2 linked regions of the Homo sapiens genome follow. The main gene of each other region encodes a partner of the protein of the gene in region 2 in a complex. Each region holds a gene or a part of one and is shown on either strand. Other genes may lie near its edges. The genes, in order: GNAO1 and ADRA2A. A codon is read from its position in the direction of its gene.

Region 1 (7,000 bases), on a different chromosome or scaffold from region 2:
CTCAGACAAGATCAAGCTTTTATATGAGACTACCATGTTTATTATAATACTGTTTTGTCATTTTTTCATTTAAAAGATAATAATGGCCAACAGATAGGTTCTATTCTTTGCATGTGTAACCATGTTTCATGTGTAATTTCCCTGAGTTAAATGTACTAAAACTGGGGCTCATCGAAGGTAAGTACCTTGCCTGAGGCTGTGACCCGGACCCTTGGCTCCAGAGGCCATAATTTTATTACTGTCTGGGGCTTCAGCGGCCCCTGAGCAGTTCCCTGCCTTCTCCACACTTCCTTCTCACTTACCAAGGGGTCTGTGTGCCCCTTCCAATTTGATGCTCTTGGAGGCTCAGGGCTGCACAGCCATACAGCGGCTGGGCCTCCCTGGGACCCGGTCTTTGGAATCAGGGCTCTTTACCCCTGCTACCTCCTGCTGTGGGGACAGACCAGGCTTTTGCAAGTCACCTGCCCAGGCCTCAGGCCAAGCACTCAGAGGACGCTGCCTGCAAGGGCTTTGGGGTTCATTGTGGGTTAAGTTTGAACCTAAAGCCAGGGTAGGATCTGGGAAATCAGGAAGTGGGGAGCTGGGCCAGGCCTGAAGGAAGACTCAGTGATCCATGGAGCCTGCCAGGCCACCCATCCCTGCTGCCGGGGCAAACCACAAGCAGCCCACAGGGAGGAGCCCCAAGTGTCTGAACCACAGAACGATGTGGGGTCCCAGGCTGCATCTGCTCCAGGACCTGCTGGGGGCCAGCTTGCTGGCTGGACCTGCAGTTACCACTGCATGAGAGATGGGCATGCTGACCAGCTCATGGATGTCCACAGGGCTGGAAAGGGCAGATGACTTCGCCAGCTAGGGTGTTCACTGATAGAACCCAGTGACAATCCTTGTGAGAATGCCCCTAAGAAAAGAAAACAGAAGGGTGGCTTCCAAGGCTCAGGGAGGTAAGCTTGAAGTCACACTGCGAGAAAATGAACTTGGCAGCCGGGTGCGGTGGCTCACGCCTGTAATCCCAGCACTTTGGGAGGCCAAGGTGGGCGGATCATGAGGTCAGGATTTTGAGACCATCCTGGCCAACATGGTGAAACCCCATCTCTACTAAAAATGCAAAAATTAGCTGGGCCTGGTGGCAGGTGCCTATAATCCCAGCACTCAGGAGGCTGAGGCAGGAGAATCGCTTCAACCCAGGAGGCGGAGGTTGCAGTGAGTTGAGATCGTGCCACTGTACTCCAGCCTGGGTGACAGAGCAAGACTCTGTCTCGGGGAGAAAAAAAAAAAAAAGAAAAAAAGAAAATGCACTTGGCTGGGATTCCAGCCCAGTTCTGACTGGCTCCAGACCCCACGCTCTTAAACTGGACATCATCAGCATTTTAAAAATCCAGAAAAAAAATTTAAACAGGACTCCTGGCCTCCTCTCCTGAGCCTGACTGCCCTCCGTGGACAGGAACGGTGTGGGGATGGGGTGAGAGAGCCGAGGCTGCAGAGCAGACCTGTACACGCCCCCGGCCTCACAGCCTCCTCGCCAGCCAGTGGCATCTGGGCAGGCTCTGGTCTCAGCCAGAAGGAGCCTCTCCCAAGCCTCTGTGCCTGCCCCGCCCTGGCGCCCATGACCTCTGCTTCCAAGCTGTGAGGACGCCCTCTGCTGTCATCTGCAGCTGGACACCAGCCTGGAAGCGTTTGGTCCTGCTCTTCCTTTCCCAGCCAGGGCAAACCTCCTTTAGATGGGCAACCTGGCCCTCTGGCCTCTCTGTGCTGGCCGAGCCTCATGCAAGGAGACGGCTGTGGAGGGTGGGCAAGGTGTGGGAGAACTGCTTAACAACCCAGTCGGGAAGGCTGACTGTGCACCTGCTGTCCATCCCACCTAGCCACTGTTCCAGGAGCTGGGGATGGGGCAGTCGACACAGCCCCACCTTCCCAGGGCCTGTGTTCCAAGTGAGTGTGCACACGTGTGTGAGGTGGTAAACAGAAGAGTCAGAGAGATGATATGTCAGGAGGTAGTGTGAGAGAACGAATCAGGCTATTAGTGATGGGGGAGAGCTGCTGGGGGCTGCTATTTGATGCAGGGTGGTTGGGGAAGGCGTCTGGATAGGGGAGACTGAGGGGAATGAGGGAGCAAGTGGGCCTCGAGTGGCCCAGTGGAAACACTGGCAGGCATGGCGGCAGGAAGCACACGTGGAGGGGCCAGGTGGTGGGTGAGGCTGGGGAAGGTGGTGGAGGTGAGGGTGGCCAGAGTCCGGCTGGGGCAAGCAGGCCCTTGAGGTCATTGTCAGGGCTTGAGCTTTTGCTCTGAGTGAGATGGGAGCCCCTCGAGGGTTCTGGCCAGAAGCATGTTGACAACGGCCCTGTTGCTGCCATGAGAGCAGGTCAGCGGGTGGGGCCTGCAGAGCTGCTGTCGTCACCAGATGGCACTGGCACAGTGGGGGTGGCTGTGGAGGGTGTGAGTGGTCAGAATCTGATGTACCTGCCAGGGGAGCTGCATCTGCTGGTGGCCTCGGTGTGGGATACAGGAGGACGAGCAGAAGTAGAGATACCTCCACGTGGTGGAATGAGACACATTTAGAGGGAGGGAGGAGCACACAGAGCAGCTTCTAGTGGGAGGATGGGAGCCAGGGGTTCCACGGGCTCATGTTAACTTGAGACTCATTTGATGTCCAAACAGGCACTGAGTAGGCAGAAGTCAGGAGGGAGGGCTGGGCTGGCGATATGAATTTGAGAGTTGTCCAAGTGTACAAGGTGTTTAAAACGAGACAGGAGAAGGTCACCAGGCACCAGGCCTTGAGAGGAGGTGCTTCTGGGATGGAGCTTGGGGACGGGATACAGCAGCCCCCAGCAGACCTCCCCCATCACCAGTTGCCTGGGTGGGTGGGCAGGAGGCATCGAGGGAGTCTGGAAAGGGCGGCCCGAGAGGAGGCGGGGGCTGGGAGTGAAAGGAGGTACCAGGTACTAGGGGACTGAACCCTGAACCCTGAGTGGGAGGAGGCTGATGGAGCAGCCCCCAGGATAGGACTGGGCTATGAGCCATCTCAGCAGGCGGAGGAGCAAGAGCTCGATAGGAGTGGGGTCAAGAGAGAAGGTGAGGAGAGGAAACGTCGGACGCCAGCATGGACAACTCAGTGGGGAACTGGATTTGAGGAAAGCCAATGCCAACCAGGCCCCAGAGCACCTTTCACAGCCCCTGGTTGGATGTGCCCAGGGTTTCTGGGACCTGCCTCTAGGTAGTTATCCAGAAGGGAGAGCCAGCCCTGTTCACAGAGGCCGGGGTGCACCAAGAGCCTGCTCAGGAGCCTGTGCCCTGGTCCCTCCCCTGTAAAGGGCTGGGCAGAGAAGTGCTTTGGTGGTTGGGGCATTAGGGTGTCAATGGCACCCCCTGGAAGCACGTGCTGTGGCAGCCCTGTGAGTCCTCCCTCTCCTTTCCAGCACAACAAACCTACTCTGATCTGCTTTCTATACTGGGCCCAAGACTTTGTCAGAAGCTGAGGTCTAACTGCTAAGACAGGAAATGTGCCAGGCCCTTCCGGCCCTGGCCACCTGTGTGTCCCCTGTCTTTCCTGCCCTCTCCCAGAGGGGAGACACGGAAGGCCCAGCCACAGTGACAGAAGAGAATGGTAACATCATCAACCTGGGAAGTGGAAAATTTGAAAGAAGGCAGAGATGAGGCTGCAGGGAGGAGAATTTCCTCAGCTTACTTGGTGGGGAGTTGACAAATACTGACTCAAGTTTCTTATTTAAAGTTATAAAGGTAAGCACCGGAAGAACTAAAAATAATCCTGTAACTAGCAAAAAGCCGGAGGTGAAGGTGGAGAGCGATGGAAGGAAGGAAGGTGAGCTGAGCTCCCTCGATTCCAGAGTGGGTGGCAGTAAATACTATTTTGAGTCAGAGGATCAAGTTTTTCTGGATGCCACTGGGACAAATAAATGGAAGTGGGTAAAAGTGGGAGGGGCAGGGCTGGTGGGGGGAGTAGGAAGATTACTTCTCATTTTACATCCCTCTGCATTTGTTTAATTTTTTTTTGGTAATGGATTCATGTTATAATTAGTGAAATGGGTAAAAATGTAAGTGGAGAGCAGAATTTGCTGAGCCACTAGAAGACAGATTTGGGCCAGCTGGCCCTAAAGGCCCTTGAGGGTCTTGCTGGCCCTCGGGGAGGAGGCCCTGGACTCCAGGGCAGGGACAGGGAGTGGAAGAAGGGAGGAGGGCAGCTGAAAGTCACTCTCTCCTGCCTAGCTCTGGTCTGTGATTTGTGCATACGGAATGGTGGACACTGAGCTTCTGGGCTCACTGCCCTGACCACCAGGGTGTCCCTGGGAGCTCATCAGGCCCGGGGGCCTAGGTAGTCATCACCTGGGACTCACAGGACTTCGGCATTTGCCCTCTGGACAATCTAGGTGTGCAGAAATGGGAAGCCGCTCCCGGCCTTGCTCAAGTCCCTAGTCTGTTGGCTGCCATGTGGCCCGTGGAAATGTCCAGGAGTGAACATTGGCCTCAGCCTCTGTCCATTGGCATTGCGTAGATCAGGGTTTCTTAATCTTGGCACTATGGATGTTTGGGGCCACGTAACTCTTTGTTGTGGGGGCCGTCCTGCACACTATGGGGTGTTTAACAGCATCTCTGGCCTCTACCTGCTAGCTGCCGGGAGCACCACTCTAGCTGCAGCCATCAAAAATGTCTCCCGATGTTGCTGAATGTCCCCTGGAGGCAAAAAGGCCCCAGCTGAGACCTGGTGAAAATGGCTGGACTGGATCATGTCAGAATCTTCCCAGCTAGTGGGATAAAGCTCAAGGGCTCCTTGCAGAAAGCCCCCACTGAATGTATGGGTACCAGATTGCAATTGCAAAGGTGGGGTGCATTTCCCGAAAGCCAAGGGGGCAATCCCAGTATCTCCATGACAGAAGACATGTCCCTGACCAACGCTGACCATCCCAGGGCTCTGGAGCCTCCAATCTAGAGGCCAAGGGCACGGAAGCAGTGAGGATGTCCTTGGAGATGCCTAGAGTGATAAAGCTGCAGCCAGTGGACCTGTGACCTGCTGTGATGGGAAGAGCCGGGAGCACCTTCTAACCAGCTCCAGCTTTTACCACTTCCCACCTCTCCGTCTTCTCTTCTGTCCTCTTCTTTCTCCCTCTCTCCCCTTCCTTTCTTCCTTCCGTCCTCCTGCCCTCCTGTCATCCCCCTTATTTAGTTATAAATAGTATTAAAGTATACATTTATTATATTAATTAGACTTACATATTCCTTATTCTTAATTTTAAAGATGGGGAATGGAAAGCTTATTATTTTTTCTAAAATAAAACAAAATGGCACCATTTCTTTTCTGCCTATATGGCTGTTGTTTTGGTTTGTATTTATGCGGTCAGGGGCTCCCTATAAAAAAACAAAGCTGCTACACTTGAAAGCTGTCTTTTTGCAGTGCCAGGCACTCTCCAGGACAAGCCAGTGACAAGGTCCCGGCCCTCTGGGAATTTCCACTGTTTGGTTGTCTCTTGCGTCCTCTGCCTCCTCTGGCCTCTTTCTCCTCCTGGGGTGCAGGAAGAGAGGCCCCTTCTCATTCCTTCCTGACACCCTCTACCTATGGGAGAACATCTCCCGGCAGGCGTGACCTCAGCCGAGAATCCTCCTTGCTCTGCCAATCCCCATCACCAGTCCCTTCCACTCCCGCATCACTGCCCGGCTCCAGGCCATGCGCCCGCTGGGACACTCACTATTTGGCAGAGTCGTTGAGCTGATACTCCCGGGACCGGTTGAAGCACTCTTGGATTCCTGAGTCGCCCCAGAGCCGCATCATGGCAGAAAGCAGCTCTGCAGAGAAGGGCTCGGTGTCTTCCATCCGACTCACCACATCACACACCATCTTGGCGTCAGCCTGTGAGGAGAGGTGGATGGTGGGCTTTGACGCTTTGGTGGGGACAGAAGACCTCTGCCAGCCAAGGGCTCTCCCCTAGCGGGGACTGTGATGAGAGCCCAGCCAGTGCAGCAGGACCGCAGCTCAGCCCACAGCCTGCTCCAGGGAGGGCCACGACCTGAGCATGCACAGTTGGGGTTCCTGGGGCCCGTGGGGCCTTCTACCACATGGATGTCCTAAAGCAGGAGCTCCAAGCTGCAGCCCATGGGGCCCCAGAGTTTTCTGGGGCAGGAAGGGAGAGTGGGCCCGGCTCTGTTCTCCACTCTCCAACTCAACCAGCAGGAAGGCAGAGTGGGCCTGGCTCTGCTCTCCACCCTCCAACTCAACCAGCAGCTCTGCTTTCATCCTGAAAACTCGGTTATTTTGTTCGGGGGAGAAAAAAATCAATGTTCTTGGCTGAGCTGTAATTTTCTATACTTCTTACACAGGGTGGAATGCAGTCCCTAGAACTGGGCTATGTAGAGGAGCAGACGTTTCGGTAGAGAATTCCGGTTAGCTGAGGGATGGGCCACAGCGGGGCTGTGCCTCAGGACTGGGGGAGGGGAGGGGCTGGTTGCCAAGTTAGTGCAGATGGCAAAAATATCTCATGCCAACACTAAATCTCAAGAACTTTGGCCCTTGGACTGCTCAAAGCCAAAAGTCCATTTTATTAATTTTTCTTGATTTGTTTGTGACCTGGGGCCTACCTTTCTCTGGGGGCAGGGGAAGCTCCTAGGTCAGGTGAAACATGGAAATGGGAAAGGACAGGTAATGAGCTTGGAGCACTCTCCTCCTCTGCCTCCTCCCTTCCTCCTTGTCTGAGTGGGTGTAGATGAATTTGCTTAAGGTGCACACGTGTAGGCTGAGCCTTCTTGAAATTACAGAAAAAGTACTGCATAATTAACAGGTTTCTTCCCCTTCCCCTCATCCTGGATACCAAAGTGGGGTCGCCTTTTCAAAGACTACAATCACATGCATGTAACATCACAACCAGGAGTGTGGTGGTCTTTGAAGATAAGAAGGCTCCTGCAGACATCCCAGGACTGCACCGTCACCGCCACCTTGCACACGGGAGTAGTACTTAGCGTACAAAGGATTTGGTGAACACACTCCGTCCTCAGAAC
Region 2 (16,146 bases):
GATCCCTTAACCCAGTATTACCCAACAAGAGTTCCAGCAAACATGAGTCTCTGAGATGCTCTGTTAAAAAAAAAAAAAAAAATGAAATTCCACAGTCCAGGGAGTTTGGGAAACAGCACACCACGTCATCCTCTCTCAGACAATCGGAAACCACATAGGCACATTAAAGGCTCTGAGAGATCCTGAAGGAGATGTACCTATTAAAGACTGCTTACCCCAGCATTTCACCAGATAGGTGGCAGACAGGGAAGAGATGATACGTAGGTGACAGACAGTAGAGACAGATAGAATGATAATGTCAATAGATAATGTAGATAATATAGATTTTGTAGTTGAATTAACTGCACAGAACACACTGTTAAATAATATTAGACCAACCACTTGCATTTCATAAATGAAGAAGCAGGGACTCAGAGAGGGATTTGCTCAAGACCACATCGCTGGTAAAAGACAAAACTGGGCCTAGAACGCAGGCCTCCTAATCCTCAGTCTAGGCTATTTCCAACAGACCCTGTTCTATTTTTTTTGTATTTAACTAACTCTAAGCCCCAGGATTTCTGGTAATCAAATAGATCAATGCTATTTCCAAAACAAATCTGAGTGTTAGTGATTTTGCTCCGTGACTTGACGTGGCCTCCCTTTCGCGCGTGCCCTCTGCTAAGGAAGGTGCCCCTTCCTGCACCCTGGACTCTCAGGCCCACTGTGAGGGGTGGCAGGGCCCAGGGCAGAGGCCAAAGGGCTAACCTGGCACTGGGCTCTGGACCTCGGTACCTGGATCCTATTATGCTACTGAGTCAAGGACGTAGACTTCCTTACAGGTGTCCCCAAATGGGGACAGGACCTTGTCATGCCATCCCCAAGATGAGGTTGGATGAAAGCTGAGGTCTGACTTGGGCCTAGGTGCCACTGCCCAGGCCTGGCACTGGTCCCACAGGACTCAGCTGCTAGAACCAGAGCTTCCTTCGCGGGCCTAGCCTTCTCAGAGTGTGGACATCCCAACTCCCACATTCTATGCCCTGAGCTCCCAGCCACAGCCACCTCTCCCCCACTGCTCACTCACAGTACAGATGCCTATTACCCTTGGTGGGCACACAGCATCCTCTCCCCCACTGCCACACTGTCACTGTGTGTGGCTAATGAGTGCTTTTCACAGGAACATCCTGTCTCCCCATGTAGCTCCAAAGCTTCCAGAGGGCAGAGGCAGGCCCTAATCTCACTCCACAGGGACAAGTGGTGAGCTTTGCACAGTGCATGCAGGGAAGGAAGAGAACTGCCTTGCAATGCCTAGGATGGTCCTTGACACAAAGCAGGCACAGGGGATCCTCTGGGGTTGATTAGCAACTCACCACATCCCAAAACAAAATAGAATTCATGTTGGGTGCATATGGCATCAGACGGAGAGTCACATGGAAGAGTGGGCTCAGGGGCTCCTGGAATGCTACATAACCAACAGCTTTTCTAGGTCTCAGGTCCCTTGATCTGCCACTACAAGGTAAGAGTTAAGGATTGATGAGGATGCTTCTGGCTCTAAATCTCTGATTTGATTATACAGTCATAGACAGGGGAAAGCCCAAGCCACGTTTTCATCATTCTCTCCCCCAGCCTTTTAGCATAGAAGAAATTGAACAAAGCCTTGGGGAGGAGGAGACTGTGCTTGTGCCCAGGCTCAAATGAAGGCACTACCCTTCCCCCAACCCAGCACACTTGCACGAGTAAATCTAGCAAGACACACTTCAGACCCAAAAGCCAATGGCTTTCAATATCCCAACCAAAGTTACATAAAACAGGAGATTCGGCCACGAAGACAGACCCTCTTGGCCCAGATACTCGGGAACAGATACTATGCACAGGAAAATGTGGGGTTAGCTCTTTAAGCCAAGATCCCTGTGGGAGCCATTTCACCTTAATTTCCCTCCCCACCCCACACCTTGGCAGACTGTTGCTTGAGCCCTTTGCAAATGAATAAACAGTGATTCCTACTGTGAACTCAGAAACCCACCCATGCCTGGGCTCCAGCCCTCTCTCCCCCACTTTCTGCAACCTCCATCCACCTCTGAGGTTTCTCTGCTTCTGTATCGAGGAGGAGGGAGCATGACACCAGAGGCCCCTCCGTGTAGCACCTCAGCCCATGCTTCTTCCCCCTCGGCGGGTGGAGGCAAGGCAAACACTTCCCTGACAGACAGGACAGAGCTGAGAGTCAACAGCAAGCAGTATTTGTATCTGCTCCTGTGGCTGGGACACACAGCCTGGGTCCTGGGGGCTCGCCAGGCAGGCTGTTGTCTGGCACTGTTTGCCTTTGGGGCAATGGGTACACTGGAGTGAGGAGGGAGAGGAGAGGCTGGGGTGAGGGTGGGATGGGGAGCAGGCCACAGAACCAGACCAGGGAGCCAGCCGTGGCACCACAGGCCAGGAGGCTGTTTTCTGAAGCCTCTGAGCCAGGGTCACTGGAGCCCAGCACCTGGCCATCCTCCTGTGTGCCGGCTCAGAGGATCCAGGTGACGGCAGGAACTCCTCACCCCCTCAGAGCCATGGTCTTCCCTCTCCCAGGCCCCTCAGTGCCCAGATCATTTCTCAGGGCTCTCTACCCTCCCACTGCTGCATACACAGACACCCTCTCCTGCACGAGAGAAGCAAAGGAAGATGAGGAGATGCTGCATGGCCCAGAGGGTGCAGAGGACCTGCTTCTGGGGGGTGTCCAAAGCTGGTCCGCACATATTACAGGTGACTGGGCTCACAAAAGCTGGCCTCCCCCAAAACCACAACCTGACGCTTGTGTTTGCCCCTCAAACCCCCCTCCTCCATAAGTGGCTATTCATCAGTACTGCATCTGACTACACACACAGAACTACTACTACACATCTCTCAGCTGCGCCCTAACCCGGGCAGCCTGGAGCCAGAGCCCTGTCACCTAGCGCCTTGGGATCCTGAGCAAGTCGCTTCCTCTTGCATCTGCATTTGCCTTCTCATCTGTCAGATGAGGGGTTGGACTCCTGGATCACTAAGGCCCCTTCCAGCTTCAAAGTGCCATTACCATAGTATGAGGGCCATAAGCCCTCCTAGACAGCAGAGCAGACTTTGATATTATAGCAATGCAACAAGAAGGATGCATGCCTTCTGGCCAGAGACAACTCAAACCACCAACTAATACATGGTTCTATTCAGGTTTTAGACCATACTTAGTGCATAACCACACTATGGAGTATATGCTACATGTCATATATTATCATGCTTTAAGGTGTGATATACATTTTGGAGTATATTCCACACTTGGTGCATATACCACACTTTGGAGTAGATACACACTTTGAGGTATATAGACACATTAGGTCATGTAGACACTGGGGTATGTATACACCTTGTGTATATTAAATACTGGGATATATCTCACACCTGGTATAGATAGCACACTGCATAGACACCTCTCCACTGGGAGTGTTCTGAGAAGGGCTAATGCCAAAACTCTGGAAAGGTTCTGGGGTTAAGAGTGCAGGCCCTAGAACCAGATAAAGCTGGGTACGATGCATTTCCACCACTTGTTAACCTTGAGCAAGGTTAACAAACTTGCTCTGAGACTCAGTTTCTTCACCTGTAAAATGGGGATAGTAATAAAACTTACCTCATAGCGTTCTTGAGAAAAGTAAACGAGGCAATGCCTACAACCAGTTCACCACAGTGTCTAGCATGTCAGAAACACTTAGTAAATGGTAGCTTTGTTACTGATGGAACGTTTAAAAAATTTTTATAATGTACATTTTTTATTTTTAAAAAATCCATAAAATCAGATGTTCCCAGAGTCTTAAAGCTTTTGAAAACTCAGATAACAGACAAGAGGACCACTCCATTCATATTTATTTCACATTTGATCTGTAAACTTTTTTATTTAAAAAAAAATCCACTGTCATTAGCAACATGTGCTGACATTAGTTTTTCTTTAGTGAAATAAGAGTGCAGGCCTTAAATTGTCTCTGTCTAAAACATGTAGAAATGCAGATGTAAACACAAAGTCTCTGCCCTCCTCCCCTGACTTTGGCAGTTCATCAATGACATGATCTCAACCAGAAAAGCACGGAGGGGGGAAAGGACAACATTTTGATACCTAACAGCTCTTGGGGAAGAAACTGTACAGTTTGGCAGGCCCATTTGTCTTTTCAAACTGTTTACCTTGGGCAAATTGTATCAGGTTTGCTTCTTCCACATAATTTCCACTCCTTGGAGTCTAAAAACAGCAGCTAAAAGATTTCCCCATAGTCAGCACTTTCGGGGCAGGAGGGGCACACAGACATACAAGATAGAAACATACATATTCTTCTTCAAGCAGTGGCCCTGGAGGGAGAGAGGGAACACTGGAAAGAGAGGTTTTAAAGTGAGTTACTGGGGCAAACAGTGCATCAGAGAATAATGGCTTTATACACAGGGCTGATGTGAGGCAGAAAGGCTCATTTACTTATGTCTTGATCCACCATCATAATATTTACATAGGAAAAGGCAATTATGCTGTTAGGCACAGGAAAAAAATGGACAGAAATCTTTTCCCTGTCAGGAAATCTCAAAGCAGGTCCGTGTCGAAGGGACAGTCACCAGTTGCTGGTGAAAACGACGACATAGAGGGACTTCATAACACCAGAAAGGGCTTGCATTGCAAAGGGGCTTGGCCTGAACCAGACAGCTGTGTCTGCCTGGAAGGCATCTCTCCCAAGGCCAGGATTTCAACATCAAAACCAAGGCCAAGAGATATGGGGGCCCCATGTGTGCTATCAAAAATAGTGTATATTTACAGCGGGGGATGGGGAGGGCAGGCAGGGCTGCCCTTAGCATTTTTCTTTAAAAAGAGAGAGAGAGTTGGGAATGGAAGGGGAATTAGCCAGGGCTAGGTAACCCCCATCCATTAACCTTTTGTGAGCCATGCCCTTGTAGTCCAGTGCTTGCTCTGAAGAGCTGTGAGGGCTGTACCAGGCGAAGAGGGTGAAAATACCTTTAGGAAGCAATAGTGATTAGGGGTGGCCCACTAGGAAGATGGCTCCAGGTCAAGAGTGGCCAAACCAACAACTGGGGATGTGTGGGCCTGGCAGCAAGAAGCTTCCCTTGTAGGAGCAGCAGACGCCCGCCCGCAGGAGGCTGCAGAGCCACCCCAGACGAGGAAACGCAGAGCAGGCAGCGCCCGGGTTTCTGAGTGCCCTGGGGCTAAGCACCCCTCGATGCCCCCCGCTGCCTGCAGTCAGCGTGAGTCTACGCGGGCGCCAGCGGAAACCTCACACGATCCGCTTCCTGTCCCCCCGACAGAGGATCTTCTTGAAGGCGCGGCGGAAATCGTGGTTGAAGATGGTGTAGATGACCGGGTTCAACGAGCTGTTGCAGTAGCCGAACCAGAAGAAGAATTTGAAGAGCGTGCGTGGCACGGAGCACCCGACGGCCGTGAGCGTGTAGGTGAAGAAGAAGGGGAACCAGCACACCACGAACACTCCGATGACCACGGCCAGCACGAACGTGAAGCGCTTCTCGCGGTTCTGCCGCCCGCGCCAGCGCGACGCCTTGGCAGCCCCGACGCGCTCCTCCCCCGGCCCTGCAGCCGGCGTCCCGATCCCCGTCGCCCCCGGCCCGCGCCGCGGCAGGCTGTCGCCCGGCTTCACCTGGCTCGCTCGGGCCTTGCCTTTGCCCCGGGGACCGCGCTCGGGTCTGCGGGGCCCTGGAGGCCGCTCGGCGTGGTCGGAAGACGAGCTCTCCTCCAGGTCCAGCGCGTCGGTGTCGCGCGGCCCGGCCGGCGCGGGCTCGCCAGGGGCGCCGTTGAGCTGGGTGGGCAGCGGTTCGGCCTCTGCGCCCCCCGGGCCCGCGCTGCGCTCGGGGCCCAGACCGTTGGGCCTGCGCTCGGTGCCCCCCGGCGGCGCGGCGACGGCGTCCGGACCCCGGCGGCTGGGTGGCACGCGGGTGCGACGCTTGGCGATCTGGTAGATGCGCACGTAGACCAGGATCATGATGAGGCAGGGAGCGAAGAAGGAGCCGATGCACGACGAGATGACGTACCACTTCTGGTCGTTGATCTCGCAGCGCGGCTCGGCCGGCTGCGGGCCGCCGCCGCCGCCCTTCTTCTCGATGGAGATGAGCGGCGGGAAGGAGATGACGGCCGAGATGACCCACACGGTGATGATGATGGCCTTGATGCGGCGCGGCGTGCGCTTCAGGTTGTACTCGATGGCCTGTGTGATGGACCAGTAGCGGTCCAGGCTGATGGCGCACAGGTGCACGATGGACGACGTGCAGAAGAGCACGTCGAGCGCCAGGTAGATCTCGCACCAAGCCTTGCCGAAGTACCAGTAGCCCATGACCTCGTTGGCCAGCGAGAAAGGGATGACGAGCGTGGCCACCAGGATGTCGGCCGAGGCCAGAGACACCAGGAAGAGGTTTTGGGGCGCCTTGAGCGCGCGGCTCGTGAACACGGCGATGATGACGAGCACGTTGCCGAACACGGTGAGCAGCATGAGCAGGCCGGCCAGGCACACCAGCGTCAGCGTCACCTGCAGGGAGTAAGGGGTGGCCCGGGCGCCGCCCCCCGGCGCCTCGGTCCCGTTCCAGCTCGCGTTGCCCGCGTCCGGCTGCAGGGAGCCCATGGGCGCAAAGCTGCCCTCGGCCAACGGCTGCTCCTGGCGGAACATGAACGCGGGCGCCCGCTGGCCTGGGCCTGCTGCCAGCTGCCTTCCGGCCCGGCGCCCGTGGGTCCTCCTCTTCCTCCGGCGCCCCGCTCGCCTGGCTGCGGCTCACATAGGGAGGGGGCCGCAGGGAGGCCGGGCCCGAACTGGAGGACCGCTAGCGGCCCATGGCCCGGGTCCCGCGAACTGCGCCTGGCTCGCGCTTCAGACGCTCTCGGTGGGCGCCTTCTTGCTCCGAGCTCCTAATACAGCCAAGTTTTATTTCTAAGCGGCGGGAGAGAGTAGGGAGAGCCGATGGGTAAAGAGAGATTTATTCTTCAAGAAGGGAGAACAAAAATCATCGGTGGCCTGATAACTTGGAAGGATGACAGGAAATTAAATATATATATACATATCAATATCTGTATCTTGAATCTTGAGCCTGAGCGAAAGCAAGAGGTCTTACCGTGTGCGGGGCCCGCCCCCACCCCGGGAGGCAGCCGAAGGGTGCTGATGCGAGCTCGGGGGTCCTATGTCTGTCGCCTTACATCCCCGAAGCGATTACCGACTCTCTGGCTTCCCCCAGACGCTGCGGTTCTGGCCCGGCCCGGCCCGGGGCTGGGGCGCGGACTCTGCCGCCTCTCGGAGCGCCGCGAGACTTCCAAAGTTGTGCGCCCTGCTGGGGCTGGGGCACACTGTGCGGAGCTCCGGGACGGCGGCGGCGGCGGGGTGAGGAGTGTGGGGGCCGCATGAAGGCACCCCCGTCCTCAGGCGGGCCGGGGCAGGTGAACGATCAGCTCTCCAGGAGCCGCGACGGAGGCAGGGGTTCTCCTGGGCGTCCGCCTGGTGGGCGCCGAGCGCTGCTGGATGGGCCGGGGTCCGACGACAGCGCGAGTTGGGGCAGGAGCGCAAGGCGGGGAAGAAGGCGCTGGAGTGGCCGGGCGGCGGCACGCCGGCTGCTGGGCTTCTGCACCGAGCTGGAGCTGCTGCTGCTCCGCTGCGCTCACGGTGGACTCGTTTTATAGCCCCAGGATCAAGCAAGCGTTGCTGAGCAGCCGGCGTCAGCCCCCACGTGGGAAGCCGACCCTCCCCCGCCCCTCGCACCACCCCTCCGCCAGTCTAGCGCCCGCGCCTAGCGCTGGACCTCGGGGAGCGTTGCCCTCAGGCGGGACGAGCCCTTTGGAGAGGCGGGTACCTTGAGCTAGAGACTTAAAGAGGGAGCCCGGGGGTGGGGGGTAGGGGAGGAGCGGCCCCTGCTGGGAGTTGGCCATGCAGCTCCGGGCCGACGGAGCAGAACGCAACGGGCACCCGTGAGTGCCCCCAAGAAGCTGGATCTTGGGAGAAAAGGGAAGAAAAAAATGGAAGGGAATCCCCGCCCAAATCGAGGGAAGTAACCTCCGGTGTGAGTTACGTCTGGAGCAGCCCAGCTCCGGGCCAGAGCCGACGCGGTCCGCAGGTGCTCCTGGAGGCTGGGGAGAAAGGGGTCCTGGAGAGGGAGGAAGGCGCGGCTTCGGATGGAACCCCTGGGGCGGAATGGACAGCACCCACGGGGAAGTGGTACAAGCCGGAGTTCAGACCTCCGCTTAGGGAAGAAGCGGCTACGTGTCCTCCCAGCCGCGATGCTGTCTGCGGGAAACGCAAGACCCGGGGTCTGGACCGCGCCCCCTTAGACCGAGGTGGGGAGGGGTCCAGGAGCCGAGCGCCAGGGCAAAGCGAGGACGCACTGACACCTGCTGGCCGCTCGTGGTCACGGCTGAGAAGCGACCCGCTGACGCCAGGCGCCTCCTCCCGTCTCTTAGGTCTTCTGCCAACAGAGCCTTCTCCTATCTCCGAACAAATTGGTTTCTAAGCTCAGGAAAGGAGAACCCAGAGTTTGAATTGCACCCTGCCGTGTTGCAGAAATCTTCCTAAAGCAGATACTCGTGTGTCTACCCCTGGCGGGAGTGGGGGTTTGTCTAATAAAGTCACATCAGGAAGGGCTCAGCAGGCACCGCCGGCCAGAACGGGCATCCCACTCTGGACCCGCACAGCCCACCCTTCCTGCAGATCCGAGAGAGGCCAGGATCCTGCCTCCTTGGTTGCACAGCTCTGGCTTGCTGGGAATCATTATGTTTTTGTTGAGGACCGAAAGCTAGACTCCACTCCCGCCCCGCATCCCACCCCCATTCAGATGTACACACAGCATCCTTCAATAAGGGGAAGAGGGAGTAGAATATTTTCCATGTTCTCTCTGATAAGAATAGCGGTGGGGGCGGGGGGGAGTGGGTGTGCGGCGAATGGCAAGTTTTTCCGTGCGTGCTAGCTGTCCTAGGATAGATTTTAACGGTCACTAGAGCACTAGCTTGCACCCTGCTAGCTGCACTTTTCAGATGAGAGCAAGCAGTTTAATGGTAAAACCCAAGAGGGTAGGAAATTTCAGCAGGAGAGAGATTAGACTTAAAGGAATGTCGTCTTATTTAAGGAACCACTAAACCAAAATGCCTTGTGCAGTCACCTAAGTTGGAATTCCAAGGATGGAACAGGCTGCCTCTCTGTGCAGCCAGCTGCAGGCTTAGGTCTGGCTGGGGGCTGATGGCTAAATTAAGGGCCCTGAGAATCACCTTCATTCCCAGCTGATGTCTATAGCCCGCACCAGTGATACAGTTATTGGTGCTGCTGCTGTTCATGTAGTCTCAAAATCTGTACTTTCCAAAGTATTTCACAGAAGTCTCATTTGACTTCAGTACCTTTGTCTCCCAATCTTTGCCCTAATGGTATAAACTCCCTTTCCAGTGTTAGTTCTGAGGAGCCTTTCTAATCTCCCTTTCTGGACAATCTAAAGGAAGCTGAGAAGACAATTTCCTCGCTCTGTTGAGTCACTCATTTTCCATCTTCTACTAAAGTCTCTGCTCTGAGGCTCTTGGCAGGGGCTTTGGACATCGCCAGTAGGCTCAGTTGGAAACATGGCTACAGTCATTTTTGCACAGCAACTAGGAACCCCACACTTCAAGTATGAATACTAAGAGACAAAAATCAGAGCCCGTGGCAATCTGGGGTTTGCTGTGTTGCTGTTTGTAGAACTCGGGAACTGAGTCTTAGGAGACCATCACTTACCATCTGCACCCCAGCTTCCAACACACTGCTCTTCTTCCTAATTTCAGAATCAAAAGAGGAAATAAAAACAAAGTTTACAGTAATTATCTTTCTTGAAATTTCTGCTGCTAGCCTGTGTATGACACCTCTTGTCATATTTTCTAAATGCTTCCCAAACAGCCAGGTGGTTTCTTAATTCCCTGATTTGGAGTCTTTTCTCCTAAAATGGGAACAGGTCTTTTCAGAGCCAGGAACCCTGAGGCCAATACACAACGAATACCAATAATAACAAGTGCTGCATTTTATTAAGTACCATGATGTATGCACCATGTGTAGGGTGATATACATGGCCCCTTTATACACAGAGTTCTTATTCCTGTCACATGTTCCTTATCACCAAAGGTTCTGCCTCCTCAGTTTGTCACACAGGGTCAGTATCTCTGAGCTTTGAAAAGCTATGTGGACACCATTAATTTTTGCTAGAAGATTTCATGCTGTGCAAGCTGAGTGAGACATTGCTGAGCAGAAAGATATCCACAAATATAATAATTCTCAACCAGGCCTATAGATCAGCATTTCCTAGGAAGACAAAATACACTTACCAATGCCCCACCAGGGAAATTATTCACCAGGTCCAAGGTGGGATGCAGCATGTGTATTTTGACAAAACTCCTTGAGAGCTGCAGGTGTGCACACCCTGCTGAAGACTTACCACCCAAAGCAATAAATCTCAGTGGGGGACAGGAGTGATGAGCAAGTGCCCTTGTGGGGACAGGAGGCAGTGTCCAAATTACCCGGGGTAGGAAGCCAACTTGAGCTAGAAAGAGTGGGCCCCAGATTGAGAATCACTGCCCTGAGCCAGTGAGACTGCTATGACAGTGTCATAGCCCTCCAGGGAGCTGGGACAGAGCAAATAGTTGAGAGCCACTGTAAATATGGAGTTTGGGTTTGATGGCCTGAGAAGGAGTCATTTCTGGGGACCCAAATGGGGGTCCATTATTACTTATATTATTACTAAAAATAAATAGTACCTATTAGCACCAACCACATGCTAGGCACAATGCCAAGCAGTTTATGTACTATATATTATATAATTCCCAAAACAATCCCATAATGTAGATTTTATTATCTGCCTTTGTAGATGGAGGAAACTAGGCAACAGACTAAGTAAACTGTCCAGCTAATAAGTGGCAAGGACAGAGCCGAACTCTATTTTTCCTGGTGGTAAGCCCAATGAGCTTTCTAAGTTCCTTACTGTGAATCTCCAGCCTTGATCGCACTGCCAAAGAGAAACCTGCAAAATGTTCATCAGAAATGAGCACATTGACAAGTTAGCACATCCTCCTTCTAGCCCTGTCCTTTCAGTCCATTGATGTCTACTAGATTAGGACAGTACAAGGCAAGATGTATTCCCTCTTTCTGTATCTAATGCCCACTCTTGGAGGCAACGTCACATACACTCTAGGAGACTGACCATTCCCCAACAGCCAAGCTGATGGAGAGCAAGCACTACACCAACTGGTTAGGCAACCCCTCCTCCTCCTAGTAGAAGCAACCTCTCTCTCTCATGGGTGCCATACATATTTTATCATGGCTTAGATGGACTTTTCTTGCTCTAGCTTATCTATTCATTTGTATGATGATCTAGCAGGTAGAAAGGACTGTCCTTTTCATCTCTATTCCTAGAGCATCTCTAAAACAGGCTTTTTAAAAATCATATTTCTAGTACCTACTCCTTGGAGATTCTGATTCAGTAGGATGAAGGCGGGGCCTGGGTGTTTGCATTTTTAACAAGTGCATGAGTAATTCAATAAATACCAAAATATAACACACAGAGCATGGATACTTGATAAATGTGTGATGGATGAATGTATGAATGAATGAATTCTACTTACACTGAAGCTATCAAAGAGGCAAGAGGGGCCCAGAAGTTGGTGAAGTTGGTGACTACGATGGCTAGCATTTTATTCCAAAATCAGGATTTCTTAATAGTTGAGGTAGCTTAACTAGTTCAAGGATATAAGTATAGGATTCTCTCATTCTCTTTTTTCCTAAAAGGAATATGTAAGTAGAGGAAGATAAATTTATAACTATCAGCTAGGTAATTTGCCAATAAAAGAAAGCTTCTTAAGATAAATCATCTGTCCTCATGTTATATCTGAAACTAAAGTATCAGGCAATACCAAAATTTGTCTTGGCTTCTATGTCTTTGATGGTGACTTCATCTAACAAAAGTGAGGGAGCTGGCTGGGAGAGAATATTAATTGCTTACTTTTTGAAAAAAAAAGACTTGACTGTCTAAGAAAAAGAAAACATGACTCATTTAGCCTGGACTCCTAGGCTGTGACAAAATCCTCACAGATAGAAGCAATTTGGTCACACACACACATAAACACAGGCCACCCCCCCACCCACCCACCCCTGCCCCCACCACAGCCTGAACTTAAACACACACTTGCTAGTCTGAACATGATGAACAGGTGGGGAATGCAATGTTCCCGCTACTACTCATGCCGTGTGCACAGCTGGAACCAAATGCTGCAGTAAGCTACAATCATCTGTCAACTCACTGTATTGCTGACAAGGGGAAGGGGGGAGTCAATAGGGAAAACTCTATTGCTTCCTCTAAGCTATTACTTAATTCCTCCACTTCTTTGTACCTGTGCTGAAGCCCTTGGGAATCCCATCGTTATTGAAGGTTAATGGAAGCCAAAAGAAAAGCATCAACTCCAGGGGTGCTGTAAGGAGCTGCCTTATTCACCACCTACCATGTTCATCATTTGACTGCTGGATCAGTCTTGCTGTATTCACAAAAACAAGCGATGAGTCCTGCCATCGCCTTTATCTCTTTCTAACGTGCTAACCCATCCTGCCCCAGCCTGGAAAATTAAGCCAGGTGTTTTCTATCTCTGCAAGGGCTTCTGGCCAATACCAAAAAGACAGCACTTGGTACTAGGATCAACTCAACCTTGAGGATGCCAAGAAAGATTGGGCTCCCAGCTGGCTCTTCGCTGGTGTGCCACCCTGCAGGGCATGTTTGTGTTGCCACTACAATGTGACTTTTGAGAGCTTGTGTGTACACACAAAGTTTAACATCACCTACCACAGTCTTCCAAGTCAGTCCTCACAAAGCAGTGACCTTTTCCACCACATCCAGGTGAATTATCTTGTCTGCTTTGTCCAGAAGCATGAGCAAAAGCAAACCTTGAAACAGTTATGGTGAGCAATGCTTACTTGTTCTCAGGTATAACAGGTGAGCTAGAGCCACTGGGTATGAAGGAGATATTTGTCACCAACATTAATAACTCTTAAGCTAATATTCCATTAATCTAATTAGGTAAGGTAAATCACCTTTCACATTTACTCAAAGAAACCATGGAGACGCCACGCCTGAAGCATATACACCCATGCACACACACACACACACACACACACACATGCACACAGACATATTTAAGAGATGGTCTGGCTCTCACTGCTCCCTGGAAATGATCTTTTTTTCCCCATTTTTCCTAATTGATAACACAAAGCACAAACTCTTCCTTGGTAAAAGGACCACGGCCTGATAGTTTCTGGGAGGCATTCAAGTGAAGTCGTTAAGAATTTAGGCTTTAGAGTAAGAGAAACCTGAGTTCTGGTCCTGCTTCTGCCATTTCATAACTATATTTACTTAACTTCTCTAGACTTCAGTTTCCTCATATGGAAAAAGGGGAAATAATTTCACATATCTCATGCATATCCTCAAAGATTAAATGTGTGAATACATGGAAAATACATAAGACAGTGTTGGGTTTAATTGGTGCTCAGACCAGCCTGGCCAACACGGTGAAACCCTTTCTCTACTAAAAATACAAAAATTAGCTGGGAAAGGTGGCGTGTGCCTGTAATCCCAGCTACTCAAGAGGCTGAGGCGGGAGGATTACTTGAACCTGGGAGGCGAAGGTTGCAGTGAGCCAAGATTGCACCACTGCACTCCAGCCTGGGCAACAGAGCAAGACTCTGTCTCAAAAAAATAAATAAAATAAAAAATAAAAAAATAAATCTAGAGAAAGAGAAGAGAGTTGGAATCTCAAAGCTGATGGAAGCTTGAATAGGATAAAGAGGTGAATGGTTTTTTAGGGTGATTTCTTCTGCAATTCGAGCCAACCCAAAGTGCCTAAAATATAACAGAAAATGGATTGATTCACATAAATGAAATTTATTTTAACCTGAGGCAGAGCTGGCTTTGGGCAAGATGGATGCAGTAACTCAGTACTGTCACTAAGAAGCTGATAACTTTGTGGAGAAAGAGGATTAAGCAAATAGAGAGTAATAAATGTAAGGAATCATGCAAGCCTCCCCACCAAAAAAAAAAAATTATATATATATATATGTATGTATGGGAAAGAAGCTGCCTTGGTTTCTCCTAGCACTCCAAATTCCAAATGTTGTTGCTAGGAAGTTGAGATGAACCTCTTGCTTCTTTTTCTTGGATTCCATGAGATTTCAGAGCCCACACAACTACTTCCCCTTTTACTTCAGCCTCTTGGAGTTGTTTTCTATTTTGTGCAACCAGAATATTTGACCAGAATGAATGCTAGAGCCTTAACTTCATAAAAATAGTTTTCATCTTCAATACGCCAGATTCCATGCTAGACAATGATCATATAATCATCAAAACATAACTTCCAATAACTTCTATACACTGCAAAGTCTTTGAGAGGAATCTTTTCTGTTAGTGTTACATATATTCAAAAAAATTAAATAACAGTTTTGATTTTAAGCACCAAATATTTTCAGTTGATGATGGCACTCTAAGTTTATGCTTCTTCTTTTCTTAGAGATGGAGACTTGCTATGTGGCCCAGGCTGGCCTCAAACTCCTGGGCCTCAAGCAATCCTCCCAGGTAGCTGGGTCTACAGGCCTACGCCACTGTGCGTGGCTTAAACTCAAGACTTTGAAGCACCCCTTTGTCCAATCATGTAGAAATGAAAGATAAACAAAAGAAATTTTAAAAGATAGACCCACTCCCGATGCCAAGCAAGATGGAGCAAGTCTATTACAGCCTCTCGGTCCAACTAAACAGCACAACTAAAACATCTGGAAAATTCAAAAAGCAGCTATCTGAAAGGCAGACAGTAACAGGGAGAGTGGAAAGGGAAAACAAAAATTGAGGAAGAAAGCCTCATGAGAGAGTTTCCTATTGATTTTTTTCCTCTTTTGTCTCTCACGTTTGATCCACGGAAGGCCTCAGTTGTGGAACTGAGCACCCCAGCCGGTATGAGCAACTCAGAGGGTGAAGCTCCCTCTTTTGACAGAGAATGGTGGAGAGGTCCACTGTGAGCTAGGAAATGTGGAGAAACTCTCTGAACATTTTTTCTTATTTGTCTTGTTTTTACTCTCCTCACCCTGCCACTAGAGTGGCCCCAAATAGGGAAATGTGCAGTAGCCGTATAGGCAGCTACAACTTTGAGGAGGAAAAAAAAGGTCTTTTCTGGCAGTAGGAACAGGGAAAGAAAGACCCTGTGCTCTAAAGGGCAGAGCCGGGGAGGGATTTCAGGACTCTTACTGTCTTTTTTTTTGCTCTTTTACCTTACCACTCTGCCCAGGGACTGAATCAGTCATGCAGAACTGGTGGCAGGATCATGGGTAACTAAAACTCTAAAAGAAACCTATCTTTCTGTCCAGAGGAATGGGACAATGGGTCCCTGGGAGACCAAGATTACATACGGGAACCCAAAGAGAAAAGAGCTGGAGAAGGGAATCCTCTAAGCCTTGTGTCTGATCAGGTGTAAGTCCCAGGCCCACCTGTGACCTGTGCATGCGTGTGACCAATGGCAGGCAGGATCCTGCCAAGGTTCATACCCCCAACATCAAAACACTGGTTACAGAAGGGGAGATGAGACCTGTGATTTGAAACCAACTACTAGGTTGATTTCCTGTGAACATAAACCAAACAGATTTTCACAGGACCAAGAGTAATAATCATAATGTCCAAGACAGAATCCAGAATTGCTCAACATACAAAGATCCAGCTAAATGCTGGGAAGGGAGAAATGATGAACAGATGTTTAACTTGAGATGTTAGAATTAATTATCTGACAGAGTTTAAAGTAACTATTATAACCAGGTTGCAAGAGGTAAAGGTAAGTATTCATTAAGTAATTTAAAAGATAGAAGTTCTCTGAAATAGACATGCTAAAGAAGAACTGAATGCCAAATCTTAAAACTAAAAAATTCATTCAAAAAATTAAATCTCACTGGAAAGGCTCTGTATGGGTCTCCTAGGGATGCTGTAACAAATTACCACAAACTGAGTGGCTTAAAATAATAGACACATATTCTCCCACAGCCTTGGAGGCTAGAGGTCTGAAATCAAGGTATCAGTGGGGTCACATGCCCTTCGAAAGTTCTAAGGCAGAATTCTTCCTTCCCTCTTCCAGCTCCTTGTGGCTTTTTGCATTCCTTGGCTTGT

The links.
Region 1: the proteins of ADRA2A (region 2) and GNAO1 are in contact, whole or in part, in a cryo-EM structure (PDB 7W6P), measured with the Homo sapiens proteins. Residues at the interface, in NP_000672.3 of Homo sapiens: Arg77 (codon at 6,419), Arg146 (codon at 6,212), Ser149 (codon at 6,203), Ile150 (codon at 6,200), Ala153 (codon at 6,191), Ile154 (codon at 6,188), Asn157 (codon at 6,179), Leu158 (codon at 6,176), Arg160 (codon at 6,170), Pro162 (codon at 6,164), Ile234 (codon at 5,948), Ala238 (codon at 5,936), Arg241 (codon at 5,927), Arg383 (codon at 5,501), Arg386 (codon at 5,492), Phe387 (codon at 5,489), Val390 (codon at 5,480), Leu391 (codon at 5,477), Phe444 (codon at 5,318), Asn445 (codon at 5,315), His446 (codon at 5,312); in NP_066268.1 of Homo sapiens: Ile28, Lys32, Lys193, Asn194, Leu195, Asp218, Phe336, Thr340, Asp341, Ile343, Ile344, Ala345, Asn347, Leu348, Gly350, Cys351, Gly352, Leu353, Tyr354.

The regions. Positions count from the first base shown.
Region 1 is NC_000016.10:56,327,489-56,334,488, reverse strand, and holds part of GNAO1 (guanine nucleotide-binding protein G(o) subunit alpha), read right to left. Parts: intron 5,859-7,000; coding exon 5,698-5,858; intron 1-5,697. UniProt on the Homo sapiens protein: Guanine nucleotide-binding proteins (G proteins) function as transducers downstream of G protein-coupled receptors (GPCRs) in numerous signaling cascades.
Region 2 is NC_000010.11:111,068,498-111,084,643, reverse strand, and holds ADRA2A (alpha-2A adrenergic receptor), read right to left. Parts: upstream 7,616-16,146; 5' UTR 6,648-7,615; coding exon 5,250-6,647; 3' UTR 3,737-5,249; downstream 1-3,736. UniProt on the Homo sapiens protein: Alpha-2 adrenergic receptors mediate the catecholamine-induced inhibition of adenylate cyclase through the action of G proteins.